Regions from separate parts of the Homo sapiens genome. Here region 1 is linked to region 2. The links come from fine-mapping of genetic effects on gene expression. Tissue or cell type: whole blood. Region 2 holds a variant in brackets; the other region holds the start of a gene. All regions are shown on one strand. Distances are from middle to middle.

Region 1 (5,152 bases), 98 kb after region 2:
TAGCAGGAACGCGGCTTCCAGCATATTCTGCCTCCACAAATTACAGACACGACTCTGCCAGGGGTGTTCCCAAGAAGGGCACTGGCAATTTGGGGTTGTCTGCCACCTACAGTGCTTGTCAGTCACCCTCACTCGGTGCCAGGCCACAAGGCTGTTGGTCACAAACCACCCCAGCCAGCCACTGGGCGTCAGGACCCTCGGGAAGAGCGGGAGAGGGCACTGGGATGCACCACGGTCAGAACGACAATCACAGCCCGAACCCCTGCGCTGCACTCCTCTGTCCTCCCCACCTCTCTCCTGACAACACAGATACAATCCATTCACCACCAAGCAACCTCAAGATTGGCTGAAATACCTTCCTCGGCTCCTTTCCTCCATCGGGAAAGTGGGGAGCTGCCGCTGCCGCAGCCCTCTCCTTCCCTGCAGATCTGCGGGGCGGGCTGGGGCGGGATCTCAGAGCTCACGGAAAGGAGGCAGAATCCGGTTTACAGGCTTGCTCCGCCCCTCCCCCACCCCCCTCCAATAAGCAAAGTTAGAGGGTGTTACAAGCTGCAAGACACACACCTTGGAGCTCACCCAGTCCAATCTCTGATCTGCTTTCACGATGCGACAAGGGCCAAAGCTGCAGCACGCATCTCGGCAGGGCAGCAGGCCACTCCCCCCACGAGGCCCGGGAGGTGGCCCTGGGCAGCCTCCCCACTCCCCGCCCTGTGAACACCTGGGCCAAAAAAACACACCTTTAAATACCCAGTGTGTATTTCAAACACATTTCAAACGATTTGCTTCTTTCCTTTACAGCCACTGCCACAAAAACAATTAGCCTGAACGGGTGTGAAATCCTTGATGTGTAAGACGACCTAGTTCCCCAGCCTCTCTCTAGAAACACATGAGTTCTTTACTGCGCCTGAGTCTCCTCCACCCGGAACCTGCAGGGCTGCCTCTTCTCATCAAGTGGCTTCTGCAAAACCTCTCCCAAGCATTTAAATAATCTCTGCTCGTTCTTTTAACAATAATTCAAACCTAGCAGAAAAGTGAGGACACTATACATTTCTTTTAAGGACAGTGTGTGTTACCTGCTCTGATCCCCATGTGTTACACTCCCTAACCTGTACACCAATACTCCAGCTTTTTGTTTTCTTATTTTTTCCTAAAGCCAGCACAAAATAACAGAAGGATAAGATTCCTACCACATTCTACCTGTCTGCCAATGACACAGGAAGGATGAGACCGTCTGGGGAATGGAAGCGCAGGGCGCTCTCAGTAATGCTGGGCAGATGCAGTGGCTTTTCCCCAGCAGAAATGGGCTTCGATTCAGAATCTACCAGCCCACAAGAATCATCTGACCCCACAACAATTAGTTCAATCACTCATCTGGTAAACCCTCCTCGCTCCGGGTCATAGACTGGAAAAGACAGCCCCCAAAACAGTAATAAAAACGACAAGCCCTGTTTTGCTGGAGTCAGCTGAGGTATCAGATGGGGGTCAGTGGCTAGGTCTGTGAACCTGAAGCCACACTCCATCAGTGACCCGCACTGGAGAGACACAAACACCTCAGGCTCCTTAGGAGGTCAAGCGGCCCTTCCCAGCCCTCCCTAGCCCCCGCCTTCTAGAATCATTCTGAATAGCTAACCAGGAGGCTGGGCCCCGTGTGGATCCGCCTCCGCTGGAAAAGCCGCTGCTGGAAGTGCTCCAATCCAGAGCAGGATACCTGGGGGAGGAACGGGTTAAGCGCAAAGGGGAAAGGGGCAGCGGGTGCTGAGACGCAGAAGGTGCGGGGACTTCTACAGAGCAGGGAATCTGGGCCCGGATGAACTGATGCCCTGGCCTCTTTCCTCCAGGGACAAGGTCGGTCTCAGGAAATCAAGGTATCTTCAAAGGGACACAAGGGAGCGCAGTGCCGATGAGACCGGGGCAGAGCCACAGTCTGGCGGTGCAGGCTGGGGGTCCGAGGCGGGGGACACTGGCTAGCAGTGCTGCCAGGGTCGTGTGTGCACTGGGCAGAGGGAAAGGAGGGGAAGAAGGGAAGGGGAAGAAGGGGAAGAAGGGAGTGTGTTCGGTTGGGAGGACCGGTCCAGACAGAGGGGAGAGGGGGCCACTTCGCGAGTGGTGTATCGCTGGTTGAATTCTCATAAGTTAGAGATAGCAGGCAGGGGTTAGAAGGACAAGACAGGGTCAGGACCAGGAGTTAGAGGCGCCAGGCTCCTCTCTGGGTAGAGAAACCGAGGAACTGGGGGCGGGGAGGACTGATGGGTGCGAAAGCGGGCCGGGTCCAAATGAAGGCGCGCGCCCCGGGGTGGGGGCCGGGGTGGGGGGAATGAGGGAGGCTGCAGGGCTGGGGACCAGGGCAGGTGCAATCCGGAAAGAGGAGGCGGGAAGGAATTGGGGGGCCCTGAGGAGCCAGCGCAAGCCGGGTGGGGGCACGTCCCCTCCCCCGGAGAAGGTGCGGGGCTGGGGCTGCGGCGCGGACCCGACCTGGAGGCCGAGGCTGTGCGGGAGGTGGGGGTGGGGAGGCTGCAGGTGCCCGGCGCCCAGGTGCGAGGTGCAGGGGGCGGCGGGGCAGGCGGCTGCGGGCGGCAGGCCACTCACCTGTCTCCTCCGGCCGGGGCCGCGGGGGCGGCGGGGCGGCCGGGCCGGGCCGGGCAGGGGCTACGGGGGCGCGGAGCCCCGGGCGCACCGGGGTCGGGAGGCGGCTGCGGGTCCGGGCGGGGGCTGCTCCCTCGGCCGGCCGGCCGGGCGGTCAGTCAGCGACGCGGGCGCGGAGAGAGCGCTGCGAGGCTGCGGCCGGCGCGCGGAGACAACGCCGCTTTATCGGGTCGGAAACAGCCGCTCCGCGCCGCTTCCGCTGACGCAGCGCCGGCCCCTGCGCCTCATGACTATGCAGCACCCGCCGCCGCGGGACGGGGATTCGGGGGGCGGGGTCTGCGCCGCGCGCGCTCATTGGCCTCCGCTGCCGCCCACCCCGCCCCCGAACGGCCGCCCCGCCCCCGCCGCGCCCCTGCCCCGCCCCCGCGCGCACCGTGGCTCCCGCCCCCGTCTCGCCATGGCCCCGCCCCCAGCCATAATCCAGCCCCGCCCCCGCCCTCCTCCCGCTACGCCCCCGGCCCCGGCCCCGGCCCCGGCCCCTCCGCACCGAGCGTCCGCCCTCTCTCCCCTAAAGCGCTGGCCCGCAATCCACCCCATCCCTCTCTGCAGCCGCAGGAGGTGGCCCCCGCCTGTCCCCACCTTCTCTCCCCGCTCCTCTCGCCACTCTGTCGCAGAGGGGTCCGGCTAGCCACGAGGCCCCGGCCCCCGGCAGCCCAGCCCCTTGGCAAGCACCCTCCCGCCCCCTCCGCCCCTGCCCGTGGCGCGGCGACATGGGCCCCATCCAGGTGCTGCAGCCCCTCCTCCGCTGCAGGAGAAAACTCTCCTGTTTTCCCCTCCCTGCCACCCTCCGAAGACCTCCTACCTGGTCCCGGACCACGCCCCCGTCCCCAACTCCCCCAACGCCCCGCGCTCTGCGGGTCCCCTCTCCAACCTGGAGAGCGGGGCAGGACGAAGACCCGACCCGGAGCTTCCTGGAGGCTGGGCCTCCCTCTCAGGCTTGGCCCTGGCCAGGGACACTGATCCGTCTCTCCCCACGTGTAGAAGGGCCACAATCCCTAGGGCAGGACTGCTGGGAAACCCCATCAAGACAAGGTCTGGGGAGGCGGCTTTAACAGACAGATGTGATGGGCTGAGGCCAACCCTGTTAACGTCGCAGCCCTGCACCCTTGCCAGGGTTTAAGTTGCTTTGGAGGAATTACTTCATTTCTCAGAACCTTGGCGTCCTCATCTGTAAAATAGAAATCGTAAGATCCATCTCACCTGTTGCTAAAGGAATTTAGAAGTGAAGTGCAGAGCAGAGCCTCCAAGAGCATCGGAAATGGGAAAATCTGACCATATCAAGTGTTGACAAGGAAATGGAGCAACTGGAACTGCCAGACACTGTTGGTGGACATGCAAAGTGGTACAACTTTCAAAATCTTTTTGAAAGGCCTTGATTACCCAGCAATTCTGCTCCTAGATACACACCTAACATTGTGTTTCTGTTGATAGCAGCAGTGTTTATAATTGCCCCAAACTGGAAACTACTGAAATGCTCATCAGCCGTTAAATGGATACATAAATTGTGATATATTCACACAGTGGAATGACAGCAATGACAGTGAATAATCAACTACACACAACAACATGGATGACTCTCACAAATGATGTTGAGGAAAAGAAGCCAGAGGATAAAAAGCCATATTTGTTTCCATGTGGATAAAGTGGTAGAAGGTGTATATGGGGGTAGCAGTCAGGATAGTGGTTACCCTTGGAGGGAGGGGTGCCAGAGCCAGGAAGCAGGGCACAGAGGACGTGTCTGGGGGCTGGCTGTGTTCTGTGTCTTGGTCTGAGTGCTGGTTACAGTGTGCTCAGTTTATGATGACTTTTCCAGCTGTGCAGTCAAGATGCATGTGCCTGTGGGGCACGGTGATTCACGCCTGTAATTCTAACACTTTGGAAGGCCAAAGCGGGTGGATTGCTTGAGCCCAGGAGTTTGAGACCAGCCTGAGCAACATGGTAAGACCCTATCTCTATTAAAAAAAAAAAAAGACGTGTGTGTTTTTCCATGTGTATGCAGTATCTCAACAGAGGGTTAGTAAGTACATCAATGGTCTGTAGACAGTCCAAAGCAGCATCAGACACATCATGAGTGCTCAAACTGTACATCTGCTTCCCTGGTGATTTTTCTTTCAATGGCCAAAGGATAGAGGCAGCGGCAATTCCAGGTGTGCTGTGAGCCAACTGTGTGAGCCTGGGCGCCTACTTAACCTCCCTGAGTCCTCTTCTATAAGTGAGCATTCTAATAGTACCTAGTTCACAAGTTGTCCTGAAGCTTAAACAAAATAGCAAAATGATGCTTTTTAAAATGACAATACAATCAAGAGGACAGAACAGGTAAAGACTTTGTTTATTCACAAATTGCTGGTATTGATTGAATTGTCTTCATTGTCATTCATGCAGTAACCAACTACTGAGTGTGTGCCTACTATGTGCCACACGCTTTGCTGGGTCCTAGTACTGGAGCTGGGAACATGATCCCATCTCTCTTCTTAAGGAGTGCATTGTGGGGTATGTACCAGCCATGGTA
Region 2 (5,315 bases):
ACAGCAGCGCATGCCACAAACATTCACCTGGCAAAGAAACAGAGCAGAACCTAAGGGCTCTGTGTACACACAGACACAAACATGAGGCCACTGTTACCCAACTAATAGAAGAGAGTCATGAGCGACACGACACTTCCTTACGACCTCTCTCTCCTAAAACGTAACATTATGTGTTTAACACACGCTTACCACCACTGCTAACTCAGCAAGCGCGATTACAGTGCTCCAACTTAATAAGTTGATAAAAAGCTGTCCCGTGGCCAGTTCACAATGGAACTAAATAGTTTCGTTCCGAGATGCCTGGGGAGTTTCTCTGGCAACGAGGCATTTCCAACAAACGGGTCATTCTGTCACCAGGGGATGGTCTCAGTCCACGGCACAGAGCGACGTGCCCCTGGCAGCACTGTGGAGGGCAAGGGATGCCGCTAGGAGGGGTGCTCAGTCCTCCTGGAGGACCCAAGGAGGGGCTGGCCAAGGGGCCACCTTGAGCTCTGGCCGGAGGGTGATGGCTGGCTTTGCATGAGGAGGTGACAAGAACTTTGGGCTGGGCCCCCAACATGCTGTGTGCACGGGCCTTGTTCAACTCGGAACTGAACTGACACCTCTCCCAGGTGGTGAAGGGCAGAACCCCCCCAGGAGCTCTCGGAAGCAGGGGTCCCTCACGACAGGCCTGTGGCACCAGGCTTGGAGGCAGGGAGCTGGTGTCTCTCAGAAGCGGCGCGTGCTGGTGGGAGGCGGAGGGACAAACGAGGCTGACTCCGCAGCAGCAGTCCCTCACACGCTGTGTGGTGGCTAAAGCTGGACCAAAGTTAAGAAGCGAAACAGCGTGGGAAAAGGTGTCCATCTTTTCTGAAGCCGGTTAATGTCTAGTGTGGACAGCAATATTTGGTGTTTTAACAAACCTGGTCTCTAATAGGGGCCGCCATCGCTGGTGGCTGCACAAACCATTAGCCATATAAGGGAACAGTTGGTATCTTTAAGAGTATTTTTCAAACATGTCACCCGAACATCACCGCCCCAGCAGTGGGAGAGCCGAGGGTGGCCTGCAGCTCCCCCTTCCAGCCCTCTTGTTGCTGCAGGGACGGCTTCCTGTTCAGCTCTGGGGTTCTAGGTGGTCACAGACCAAGTCCTCCACACCTGGGGCATTCAAGAAACACTCCTGATGGCTGTTGGAAGCCACTAACCATCTGAGGAGGGCTCAGTGGCCCTGCCTCCCCCCCGGGGACAGGACTGGACAGAGTGCTTCTCCCAGGGGCCTGAGGCTTTCAAGGGCAGGTGTCCAAGAGGCAGCACACAGCACTGACGTGTTCAGTGGCAGGTTGGAGGATTCCAGCTAAGGCCCCTGCCTGAGAGTGAGAAAAACAACACTCCAAAGCTAGCTCTTCAGCCACCAGGGAACGTCATGATGCCAGTCTGCCGACAGACCCAGGAAAGGGGACACAGGCAGGCCGGCCCAGCTGAGAGCTCACGGCCTCTGCCCCTTCCCGCCAGCTCGCATTCCTGCACCTGGAAACTTCTGCCATGTGTTAAGGGGAAGCTCGTTAAAAGAGTCTTTACTTAGCTGACTTGTATAGGGAACAAAACCACCACAAATGAGACCAACATTATCCTAGTTTGGTAACTGGTCTGCGCACATTACACAAGACTCGACCAACCGACACACCCTGCCTGACACTCCACTCAGTGTGCAGAGGCACCCAGGCCACCAGCCTGCACAGCCCACACCCCAAGGGTGCCACGAGCCCAACTCCAGCTGCGTCCTCAGCACTGGATGGCTGGCCAGCTTCCCCAGGGGGCACCCGCACGGCCTCCTCGTCCCTCTCGGGCAAGGCTATCAGCCAGAGCACCTCCCCTTTGACACTGACCGGCGTCCCCAGCCCCGCCTTGTTACTGCATCCGTCTGAGGTACAAGGTTAGAAGCCACAGACACCCGAGCTGCAGCCTGACCCACACAAGCTGCGGGCGCAATGGCGCTTTGCAGACAAGACAGCCTGCCCGTCTGCCCTTCTTCTCGGCTTCCCTTAAGACACAAGGTGACGACACGGACGGTTTCAAGTGAGTGCAATCTGGAAATAATCTCAGTGCAGGGGAGGGGTTGAGGCCAAAGATGTCGTGACCTGGTCCCCGCTGTGGCCAGGCCGGGCCCACACGCACCGCCAGAGCCCCGGTCACCCACACCTGCCTCCCAGGAAGGCAGCTCCAGAAACCGACTCTACTGACCCTGGACCCCAGCCCCTGCGGTCCCCTCATTTGGGCTCTGCACACTGACCTGCACACTAAGAAGGGCTTTGCTTGCAAACACCTGAAGTGCTGACAGCTTGACGAGTCTACAAAGTGTGCAGCCACCGACTCCTGTCACCGAGGAGCACACAACAGTCACGCCTGTCCCTGGCTGGCACTGGCTTCCGGCACGTTCATACCCTGACAGTGACTGTGGCAAGGCCATGTGGAGGGCACTGAATGGCCTTTGTTGTCCTTACTTCAGATTAGTCGAGGCTGGGATCTCAAGGGTTAACACACTATTCAGAGGGGGGTTGCGAAGCCCCTCTTCCTCCTAAAAATCAAGTCGCAGCCAGGCCCTGAGACTTCTGCACTCCCAGCTGGCGAGGAATCGGCTTTGGTGAGCCCTGGATCCGGCCCCTGGGCCTTCAGATGAGGGTGGGAAGCCTCAGGCAAGGGGTGGCCCCCAGATGAACCCACATTTGGTGTGGTTTGGGTCGGATCTTGATTCGGGTCAGGCCACTGCCACCCCACATCCGCTGCTTTCTTGCCTCCAACTGTTTTATAGTCGTCAGGAC[G/A]AGAAGCCGGAGAAACCAGCTAAGACGGGAGCTGCGCCTCGAGATCCTGACAAGTACAGCCAGGTCTCAGAGAGGGGATCTACAGTCTTAAAGCCGCTAGAGGATCAAGTTGCATAGAGTGAGCTGCCACGGACGCCCGGCCGAGGTGAGGAAGCCAGGGGTGCCGTCCCCCAGAGAAGAAGGGCCACAGTGCCCAGCCCACGGGGCTCCCGCTGGCCGGAGGGCTCGCAGCAAAGCTGGCAGCACTTTCAGTAGTCGGACTTGCCCTGTCCAAGCACGAGATTCACAAGGCCATTCTCAAGTTTCCACACATCCAGAAAATGTTCTTGAAGTCTTGAAAGTCAGCCCTCTGCGATCCTGGGACACCGTGGCCTGGCAGACACACCGTGCGTGAGCAGGTACCCAACTGCCACCCGGACACAAACACACAATCTACAAAGTGCCACCAGCGGCAGGAGACACGGCAAGACCAGAGGCCCATCAAGTACATTAAACAGTCGTTCCTTTAAATACACAGAAAATTCAAGTAATTTATTTAAAAACTGCTTTAGTTTCATCTTGAAATATATATACGTGTATATATATATTTGCTCTAGAATGATCATATTGCAGCATGATTCTCATGCATTTCAAAGTACTTTATTTAAAAAACAACTTGAGGCAGCAAAAGTATTAATTACAATTGTCTGACTTTATCTGTGTGATGTGCGGGGCCTCCCTGTCTCCTGATCTCAGTAAGCCTACACCGACCGTTTCAAATAGGCTTAGTTCTAAAGAGACTGTGGTTTGGAAAACATTTCCAAATAGCTGCAGTACTTGCCCGAGTTTTGCTTATTCGTTGAAACCAGAACGACTGTGCGGAGCCCTCCGGTGACACGGGCCTTAGCTGTCCCAGACGTCTGCGTCCCTTTGCACCTGTCCCGATTCCAGCGTCGAGCAGGTGAGCAGGCGAGGAAGGCATGGAGTTCCGACAGGTTCCAGCACGCATGTCCCCTTCGCAAGCGGGGGAGGCCCTCGCACATCCACACACCCGAGGTAGCCTTGCGGCGGGACTTGGGAGGCAGGGCCCGCTGGGAGCTCTGCTCTCAGGAATCCCCAGCAAATGGTTTAGAGACGAATCAAAGTGCAGTGAAAGTCAACGTTTCCTTCCCCCTGACGTTGGGAGCGGTCTGGAGGGGCAACCTGGCCTCCTAGGAGAGTCCTTCAGACGGGACGAGCGGGGTCACATGGCTGGGCGCAGACACACTCACACGCGCACGCAGGAGCTCGTCTGGAGCTCACGCTCCGCCCCCAGGTGGTGCCCAGCCCATCCCTGGGCAGGGTGTCTGGGAGCCACCCCTGCAAATCACTGTCTTCTGCCCAGGCCCCCCGGACCAGCCTCCTCCCAGCTTTGGTGTGCGGTCGCTGCCCAAGGACAGGGCTGCCCTGGGCACAATGTGTCCAACTCGCTGAGGAAAAGAAGATACGTCATTCTTCTAAGAGAACCACATTGTGGAAAAGAAAATTTTTTTTCTAAAATAATCATAAAGAAAAATACTCTCCAACAGCTGCGGCACCAGCCAATGTGACGAGATCTGACAGACGTCAATACCTGCAGGCGTCTACAGAGAGGAAATTTGATAAAAATATTTTAGTCACTGACTACACTACCATTATCTGAAGCATTCAGATAAGACTTAGCAGAGAATGTCAGATTTTGTTTTCAATTATAATTTTAGAAATGCAAAATCTTATTTTTTCTAAGTTGCTTATTGTCTATATAAATGTTTTATATCATTTAAAAACATGCAGAATAATACACCTGCAGAATAAAAGAGCTGAAATTAAAATATCTTTTTCAATTAAAAAAAATATTTCAAATGATTCTTTTAATTATCGAAAAAGTGGTTAGTGTGGTATTTGCTTAGTAGCTCAAACCTACCCTACGACTACTGAATTGTGGCTATGGGGGCGGAGGGGCTCTGGCCCGCACTGCCGGGTCGGCCACAGCATCTGCAGGGTTCCGCGGTGTCTCTGCTCCCGCCCATGGCCTGGCCCCGCCGCCCGCCCGCCCGCCCACCCGCCCACTGGAATGTGTGTAAACGGGAGTGCGGCTCAGACCACGGACTCTGTCTCCACCGGTCCCTGCAGGCCCTCCTTCCGCGTGAGCTTCAGCACGGTGGGCTTTTCGCTGTTCCCACCGGCCCTGCCTTCGCCGGCCAACGGGGAAGACAGGCCTTTCTGCTCCTCCTTGGCCTCCTCTGACACGTTGGGATAGATCACCAGGAATGTGGCCGTCAGGAAGCCCAGGAAAGAGCCCACAGAGGCCACCATGGGGATGACGCGGACAGTCCCCACGGCGTCGACCACGCCCCCAAGGGCAGAGGCCACCAGGATCTGCGAGATGTACACTTGGCAGGACAGGATGGCACAATCTATGCCAAACCCTCGCTTGGAGTTCCCGGGGCTGTGGTGGATGTACTGCAAGAGAGGAAACACGAGGCGGTGAGCGGCTGGAGAAGGTGGCTGCTACCCGTG

What was found. PIP is the estimated chance that this variant, and not a neighbour inherited with it, causes the effect.
Region 1: it holds the start of SLC45A4, and the variant in region 2 is fine-mapped to the expression of SLC45A4 in whole blood (TOPMed, PIP above 0.99).

The regions. Positions count from the first base shown.
Region 1 is chr8:141,305,510-141,310,661 of GRCh38, forward strand. SLC45A4 (solute carrier family 45 member 4) reads right to left here and starts at 2,779. Exons shown (of 9, transcript NM_001286646.2): 1 at 2,587-2,779. RefSeq lists silencers at 2,655-2,754, 2,775-3,014.
Region 2 is chr8:141,207,299-141,212,613 of GRCh38, forward strand. SLC45A4 (solute carrier family 45 member 4) reads right to left here. Exons shown (of 9, transcript NM_001286646.2): 8 at 4,899-5,258; 9 at 1-4,399. The coding sequence ends at 4,274. Among named protein-coding and RNA genes, the nearest start is that of SLC45A4-AS1, 45 kb to the right of the region's middle. RefSeq lists enhancers at 1,018-1,525, 1,526-2,033. The variant G/A (reference allele first, on the strand shown) is at 2,799.